Regions from separate parts of the Homo sapiens genome. Here region 2 is linked to region 1. Evidence: fine-mapped expression QTL. A gene starts in region 1. The other region holds a variant in brackets. All regions are shown on one strand. Distances are from middle to middle.

Region 1 (4,394 bases):
TTTTCAGAATATTCCCTCACAAATATCAGAAAGCAAACATTTTAATTTGCATGCTGGATTCAGGTTTCATATTATTGCAGTAGTTCATAACCCTAATCACAACATATATATATATATTACAGTAGTCAAAATTCATTTAATATTCCTGAAAGGTCCATTGAAATAAAAATATACTGCAAACCATAAAACCCACCAACACTCTCCCAGACTTCGGCTTCATAGTGAATTTATGAAATATCTCTATTAATGAGGCCAATCAATCTGATATATCCAATTTCCTTAACTTTAGCGAACAGTATGTCTAACAGCAGCCTCACCCAAACCATATTATCACTTTCAGTTATTAAAAGCTGGGTAGGAAAACCACCATACACTGTATACCTTTCAAGACTTTTAGCCACACTTGAGTGTTATTAATTGGTTTAAGAGGGTGTCAGAAACACATGCTTTCCTGCACACTTTGGTGATTTCATCCTATGCTCAGAGCACTCTGATAAATTAAATCATCCTGGCTGTGTCATGAATCGCAGCTGGCATGCCTGTGTACTGCTTTTTGACGATGAGCAAGCAATACAAAATGTGATGCTGATTCCACTCTTTCAAATCTCATTTTCAGCACTCATATAGTGTTACCAGGCAGGATTTTAAAACAAAAACAAACGTCATAATAAAATTCACTTTGGTTTCACAAAACCTAAGCCCTCGTGCCAGAAAATTGGAGGCTTTTTTTCTTTCCAAATAGCAGACAAGAATCTACAGCCATGAAGCGAAGTGGGTTGCGGGGTAGGGAGATGCAATATACATGGATAATCTAGCTATTTGCTTACCGATGGAGCTTTAATGGGGGGAAAGAGGGAGGAACTGCGGAACTGTTACAGCCACCTATACTACAGCCGTATTTCTACACCTTCACTGAACAGTGTCAAGAATCTGCCTCATTTAAGTTCTACTAACAAGTAAGGAGATTTCTCTCTCTAGGGATAGGCTTTTGCTGTTCTAACACCACTCCAGACTTCACCTTATGTGTCCCCCTCTCCTTTTCCCTTTCCTTCAATTACAAACTCCTGTTTTGTTTTGCTTCATCTTATTGTACTAAAAGAGTTCTTTGCAATAAGATGAACCCTTAAACCCTTCCTGGGGTAAAGAGAAAGAGAAATAAATAATAAAATATATAAAGATTTCTCTCTTCATGGCTAAATTTAAATATAGCAGGCATGGAGAAATGGTGAAAAGGGGTGTGTGGGTGTCCATGGCAAGATTTCTCAGTCTCTAGGAGAGAAAAGGATAGAGAACAAAATGTTTAAGGGATTTAAGAACGGTGTGTGTGTGTGTGTGTGTGTGTGTGTGTGTGTGTGTGTGTGTGTTACAGTCATTCCCAGGGCAGAGGGTAGAATTCAGGAAGAAGGGAGGGAAAAGAAAAAGATCAATCCAGGCAGTCACCCACCCCCAGCCTTCCCGACCCCTCTCCAACCCACCGCAGTGCTCTGAGCTGCTCAGAAAGCTCATTACCCGGAGGGCAGATTCCCGACACCAGATCAAGGGACCAAAGGCTGGGCAGCCAGTCTGGGGAGAGAGATCGGGAGGGATGGTGACAGGAACGAACGAGGATAGGAATGGATAGGGAAGGGGCGAGGAAGCCGGCGAGGCCCTAAGAGATCGCCGGCCGAGACTGAAAGACCGGGCTGGGCAGCCAGGACCTACCTGGAACCGTCAAGGTGGAGGTTGCCCCAGGCACCTCTGTCCTCTCCTCCTCAGCCTCCTCCAGCTGCTTTTGCTGTTGTTGTTGTTGTTGCTGCTGCTGCTGCTGCTGTTGGATGAGGCTGAGGTCGGAGCGGCTGAGTTCCGCTCTGGCGGCCGCGGGGACCAGCCGCGCTTTCAGCAGCACCACGGCCAGGCCGAGAAGCAGGGTGCAGGGGACACGCCGGCAGAGCCTCGCCATGGCCTAGAGCCAGAGGGCCGCGGCGGCATATTGCGGGGCTCCGGGCGGCGGCGGGCGCCAGGGCTGCGGGCTCCTGGCAGCGCCCGCTCGCTCGCTCCCCCTCGCGCAATCTGCCAAGCACTCCCTCACCGGCAGGAGGAAGAGGCCCGGGAGGCGGAGGGGGCGGAGGAGGAGGGAAGGGGAGTTCGCATCCTCGCGCATGTGACGCGCGGGGAGGGGCGAGCCGGGGCCCGCGGTCCCGCGCCCCGCAGCCACCTGGGGCCAGGCTGCTCCGAGAGGACGCGATGCTGGGGCTGCAGCCCGGGTGGAGGGCCCTAGGGGAAACAGAAAGGGGAGGCCTTCTGGGAGCTGGTAGACCCTCACAGCGTCCACTTCCCACTGAGGCACCGGGAAGATTTGCAGAGAGTGGAATAAAATTCCTTCCACCTGAGCCCAAAGTAGCAGAGAAGGTGGTATATTGATTACCCCCATCCAGCACATAGCGTGGGTGGCACCAACGGATCAAAAAGCCAGGATCTCAAACAAATAGGCTTTGCTGCATCACCGCCATCATTGCTTAGCTAGAAGTTAAACTGCAGCGCGCCAGATTTTGACTAAACTTCTTTTCTCTGCCCTAGTGGGAATTTCTTTCCATATCATTAAATATTCTTAATTACATTTTATCTAATTCTAGCCTATCCTTTTCATTTGTTCAAAAAAATCTTACTAAATACTAGTTGCTTACCATGTGCCAGCATTTCTTCAGGTGCTTGGAATAAGTAAAATACAATCCCTGCATTCCAGGAGCTCAACATCTATTAGGGGAGAGGAACACAGGAACAAATTAGAACCCAATGTGGTGGCTACAAACAGAAAAGCAATACAAGTCCAGAGGTCTCAGAATTGGAAGAAAATATCTTGTGTATGTAGGGGCTATGAAACACCAGGAGAGGTAGAATATAAAAAAGAGTAAGACTTCCACACAGGAGAAATCAGGAACGTGGAAGAGTGTGTGTGTGTGTGTGTGTGTGTGTGTGTGTGTGTGTGTGAAGCCCAGATGTGTGTAAGCACAGTGGGCTTGCAAAAGTGTGAGCAATTATTCTAATGGAGGAATGACAGTGTTTTAGATTGAAAAGGAGAGTGGAGACCAGGTCATTAAAAAAATAATAATAACAAGCATTTCTATAGTACTTACTGTGTGCTCAAGTACTTCACATTTGTTAACTTCTGTAATAAACTTAGATGCTGTATACAGAAATTGAAATTCACACAGTAGATGATAATGAAAGAAATTAATCAGGGAAGAAACTTGCTACCAGTTGTGCATTTTAGGAGGATCACTTTGCTCTCAGTATGGCAGATGGATTAAAGGGGGATAAATTGGAAGAGAAGATGCCAGTTTAGAGGTGTTTGCCAAAACCCATAGGAGATGCCAAAGGTCATTGAAACTGAAAAGGAGAAGAAAAGAGTAGGAGACACAGTATATAAGACTACAATAAACAGATACGGTTAATTGGAAGAGGAGGAGATATGCCTAGTGTGACACCTAAATTGACAAATTGAGATCTTAGGTGGCTGCTTATGACCTTATCAACATTAACTGGCCTAGAGTAATGAGCCCTGCCTTGTTCAGTTGTGGTCTCTTTGTATTTGGAGTAACTGTGGGACATCTCATAGTGCAATATAAATGTCACCTGCTGTGACATCACCCCATTTACCATTGTAGTTCATTGTCCTTTTCCACCCTTATCATTCTTACCTTGTCCCTCCCAGTGTTTTCAATATGCTGGAAAACAACAAACTTCTCAGTACTGGAAAAGTATTTTTTGGTTAAGCAAATGAAAATAGTGTATATATAACTAATGGTTTAGATGTTTTGTCCTTTCCAAATCTCATATTGAAATGTGACCTCCAATGTTGGAGGTGGGGCCTAGTGGAAGGTCTTTGGTTCATAGAGGAGAATCCCTCATGAATGGCTTGGTGCCCTCTTCATGGTAATGACTGAATTCTTGCTCTGAGCTCACAAGAGATCTGGTTGTTTAAAAGTGTGGCAACTCCCTTCTCTCTCTCGCTTGCTCCCTCTCCTGTCATGTGACACGCTGTCTCCCTTTCACCATCCACCATGATTGTAAGCTTTCTAAGGTCTCACCAGAGCAGATGCCAGCACCACACTTGCGTTGTACAGCCAGCAGAACTGACCTAAAGTAAACCGCTTTTCTTTATGTCACCCGAAGTTTACTGCAATGCAAATGGACTGACACAATAACCATAAATAAAATAACAGTAGGTATTTTGCATCTATTATCTCATTATATCTTCAGAGCATCTCTACAAATTAGCTCTCATTATCCTATTTAGCAAATGGAAACACTGGAGATCAGAGAGGCTCCATGTCTTGCCAGAGGCTACATTTACAGTGTGTGACTTTACCTTTCTGCACCGTTTGAGACTTCTGCTATGAGTTTGTATTGCTTTT
Region 2 (4,394 bases), 260 kb before region 1:
AGACCTGCTCTGTCTCCCGGTGCAGTGCAGTAGCACAACCTCAGCTCACTGCAACCTCCACCTCGCGGGTTGAGGCAATTCTCTTGCCTCAGCCTCCCGAGTAGCTGGGATTACAGGCACCCACTACCATGCCAGCTAATTTTTGTATCTTTAGTAGAGACGGGGTTTAACCATGTTGGTCAGGCTGGTCTTGAACTCCTGACCTTGTGATCCGCCCACCTCGTCCTCCCAAAGTGCTGAGTTTACAGACATGAGCCACCGTGCCTGGCCTGTTTTGTTTTTTTTAAGACATATTTTCTCTCCGGAGTGCAGTGGTGCCATCATGGCTCACTGCAGCCTTGACCTCCGGGGCTCAAGTGGTCCTACCCCCATCATCTTCTGGAGTAGCTGGGATTACAGGCACATGGCGCACTTGACTACTTTTAAAATTTTTCTGGCCTGGCGCGATGGCTCACACCTGTAATCCCAGCACTTTGGGAGACCGAGGAGGGAGGATCACAAGGTCAGGAGTTCAAGACCAGCCTGGCCAATATGGTGAAACCCTGTCTCTGCTTAAAAAAAAAAAAAAAAAAAAAAAATTAGCCAGGCTTGGTGGTGGGCGCCTGTAGTTCCAGTTACTAGGGAGGCTGAGGCAGGAGAATTGCTTCAACCTGGGAGGCGGAGGTTGCAGTGAGCCGACATCACACCACTGCACTCCAGCCTGGGCAGCATATGCTGACTTCATTTCAAAAAACAAAATTTTTTTTTCTAAGAGACAAGATCTCACTATGTTGCCCAGGCTGGTCTTGAACTCCTGGCCTCAAGTTCTACTGTCTTGGCCTCCAAAGTGGTGGGAGTACAGGCATGAGCCACCATGCCCAGCCAAGAGAAGCTTTTTTTTTTTTTTTGAGACGGAGTCTTGCTCTGTCGCCCAGGCTGGAGTGCAGTGGTGCAATCTTGGCTCACTGCAACCTCTGCCTCCCAGGTTCAAGTGATTCTCCTACCTATGCACCAGAGTAGCTGGGACTACAGGTGCCTGTTACCATGCCCAGCTAACTTTTGTATTTTTAGTAGGTATGGGATTTCACCATATTAGCCAGGCTAATGAGTTTCCAACAGTGGGAAAAGAGATATTACACAAAAGGGACACCAAATGGGAGAGTGAGCTGGCATGGTGGGGAGTCAGTAGGGATGTGAGCCGGGTTGGAGGGCAGTGAGGACAGTTCTTGTTGGCATTTTATGCTTCTGGGGGTGCAGAAGACTATGTATCTATGATCACCCCTCTCTGCATTGCTGCTGCCCCCAATGTCCACTCATTTCATGGGCCCAGTTGGCCACCTTGGATGTACCATGATATCCACTTGGGGTTCCAATCACTTTCCAGTCTGGGAAAAAGGTTCTTCTGATGGGCATTAATATGTCCTATTTAATGCATCCCTTTAATTCCCATAGTGATTTCCATAAGGCCATGTTCCATATGGACACCCCCTTTTTTCTTTTTTCTAGACAGAGTTTTGCTCTTGTTGCCCAGGCTGGAGTGCAATGGTGCGATCTCAGCTCACCACAACCTCTGCCTCCCAGGTTCAAGTGATTCTCCTGCCTCAGCCTCCCAAATAGCTGGGATTACAGGCATGCGCCACCATGCCCGGCTAATTTTGTATTTTTAATAGAGACACGGTTTCTCCATGTCAGGTTGGTCTTGAACTCCCAACATCAGGCGATCCACCCGCCTCAGCCTCCCAAAGTGCTGGGATTACAGGCGTGAGCCACCGCGCCCAGCTGGACACCCCACTAACAATCCAGTTTTCCATTGTTCCTCTTCCTGACCACATGGCCAGCTGTTGGCCAATGCCCATGAGTTGGAATGCACCTGGACTACAGGGCTCTAATTGTTGTTTAATTCTTCCACCACTGCAAGGAAAATAGCATGCAATTCAGCTTACTGAGCTTACTTGTTCTCAACCTCTTCAATTTGTTTTACCATCAGTTGGTTAGAGTGGGGAGGTTTCCAAACAGGATGCTGACCATCTACTTTAGGAATGTTAACGTGAACCAAGGAGATGTGAAGCCTGCAGATAAGAGTGCTGACTGAGGCTGAGCGAGGTGGTTCATGCCTGTAATCCCAGCACTTT[G/T]GGATTCAGGCTGGTGAATCACCTGTGGTCAGGAGTTTAAGACCAGCCTGGCTAACATAGTGAAACCCTGTCTCCACTAAAAATACAAAAATTAGCCTGGCCCATGTGGTGGTGGGCGTCTGTAATCCCAGCTACTTTGGGGGCTGAGGCAGGAGAATCACTTGAACCCAGGAGGCAGAAGTTGCAGTGAGCCAAGAGCGCACCATTGCACTCCAGCCTGGGCAACAAGAGCGAAACTCTGTCTCAAAAAAAAAAAAAAAAAAAGAGTGCTGATTGAACTGACTGAACTTCCAAAATCATATCAGAGTGGACCATAAGGGCCCAATATATATCCAGACATCAATTCTTGAAATTCAGTCATAGACTGCTATTGTGATGGCTCCCATTCAAATACAGCCTTTCTTCAGCCTTAATAGATAAGAGCTCGCACTCTTTCCAGATGCAGAATGTGTCTTCCAAATCCAAACAACCCACCCGACCCTGTGCTTCTCACTGAGTTCCAGTAGTAGATAACAAGAGAGTCTAGTTTAGCTGCCTGTGGGATGTGATAGCTCCTGCCCAGGTTATTCCTGAGAATTCCACCATTGATATGGACTCTGGGATCTTTGCTAGATTGGTCAACCAGCCTGTGTTAGTGATGACTGTTCACTACTGCATTAAGTCAATCCTGGCTTGTTTTTCAGTTTCTGATGTGATTGTGGCATTAGCAATGCAGCGTATTGACACAGCAGTAAACTGGTGAATTCAAATAACCATGTGGCAATACAATGTAGTAAGCTGAGATCCTTCCCACATAAAGACAAACCATGTTTAACTCTTGTACGAGATTGTGATAAAGAAAAAACATTTGCAAGACATTGTATTTTTTGCATGATTGAAACCATATCAGGAACTGCTGGTGCTGTAGTCAGGACTACTTTATTTTTATTTATTTATTTATTTTTTACTTTTTTGAGATGGAGTCTCAAACTGTTGCCCAGGCTGGAGTGCAATGGCCTGATCTCGTCTCACTGCAACCTCCACCTCTTGAGTTCAAGCGATTCTCCTGCCCCAGCCTCCCGAGTAGCTACAGATGTGCACCACCATGCCGAGCTTATTTTTGTGTTGTTTGTTTGTTTGTTTTGAGATGGAGTCTCACTTTGTTGCCCAGGCTGGAGTGCAGTGGCACAATCTTGGCTCTCTGCAATCTCTGCCTCCCAGGTTCAAACAATTTTACTGCCTCAGCCTCCTGAGTAGCTGGAATTACAGGCACATGCCACCATGCCTGGCTAATTTTGTATTTTTAGTAGTGGCAGAGTTTCACCATGTTGGCCAGGCTGGTCTTGAACTCCTGACACCAGGTGATCCGCCCACCTTGGCCTCCCCAAGTGCTGGGATTACAGGCATGAGCCACCACGCCCGGCCAGGACTACTTTATTCAAGCCTGGAAAATCTACTGTAGTCTTGATGAGCCACTTCCCTTTTTCATGGGCCACACAGGACATTTGTACAGAAAATTTGTTAGTATCAGCACTCCAACTTCTAACATGTCAGCAATTAAAGTGGTATTCTCTTTTTGTCTACTAGGATTCATCTGACACTGTGTCAAATTAACAAGCTATGTGGGCTCAGGCAACTCTATAGGTTCCCATTTAGTATGCCCAATTAATGATTGCAGAAGGGCAAACTTACATACCTTTGATTTTATAATACTAGGAATGGGAAGTGCTCCCAGTCAGACATGACTCCATCTAATAACACACTTAGGTAGAGGAGACACAAGCAGTTCACATGAAGTCCGTTCTAATGTTCCAGTTTTCATCCAAACTTTCACCTTCATCTCATCAATCTTTATATCCCCAGATGCTCCCTAGCAAACTGTCACCCAGTTATGACTTCACTAACAGGTTTTGATAACATAATGCATTGGGATCCTGTGGGAAGAACTCTCAGAAGTTTTTCTCCACTCCGTGTTCGTTATCCTCACACATATGCACAAGCCCCAGGTGTGTTGTTGAGGATCAGGCCAAGAGAACCTGACCCCTGCATCAGTGTTTGTCCTGATTAATATGCCTGACCACTAGCCCCAGTGATTCGAGGTCAGATTTCTCATTTTCATCTTTGCCTTTAGTCTTTTCAAATTCCTGCAAACTCAGGTAAATGGGGTGAATCTGTTTAAGGCCCTTCAATGTTGGGACACCAGCAGGGGCAACTGTGAGTCCACTGAATCTCCCATAGTGCTGCGATAAGATTTTTCTTTTGATTCATCAATATTCAGCATTTTCATCCTAGTTCTTTTTTTTT

Evidence for each region. PIP is the estimated chance that this variant, and not a neighbour inherited with it, causes the effect.
Region 2: its variant is the best candidate, but not a certain one, in a credible set for the expression of FAM171B in substantia nigra (GTEx, PIP 0.72).

Annotation. Positions count from the first base shown.
Region 1 is chr2:186,691,719-186,696,112 of GRCh38, reverse strand. FAM171B (family with sequence similarity 171 member B) reads right to left here and starts at 2,053. Exons shown (of 8, transcript NM_177454.4): 1 at 1,702-2,053. The coding sequence starts at 1,939. RefSeq lists a silencer at 1,890-2,249.
Region 2 is chr2:186,954,901-186,959,294 of GRCh38, reverse strand. No RefSeq gene overlaps it. Among named protein-coding and RNA genes, the nearest start is that of CALCRL-AS1, 46 kb to the left of the region's middle. The variant G/T (reference allele first, on the strand shown) is at 2,112.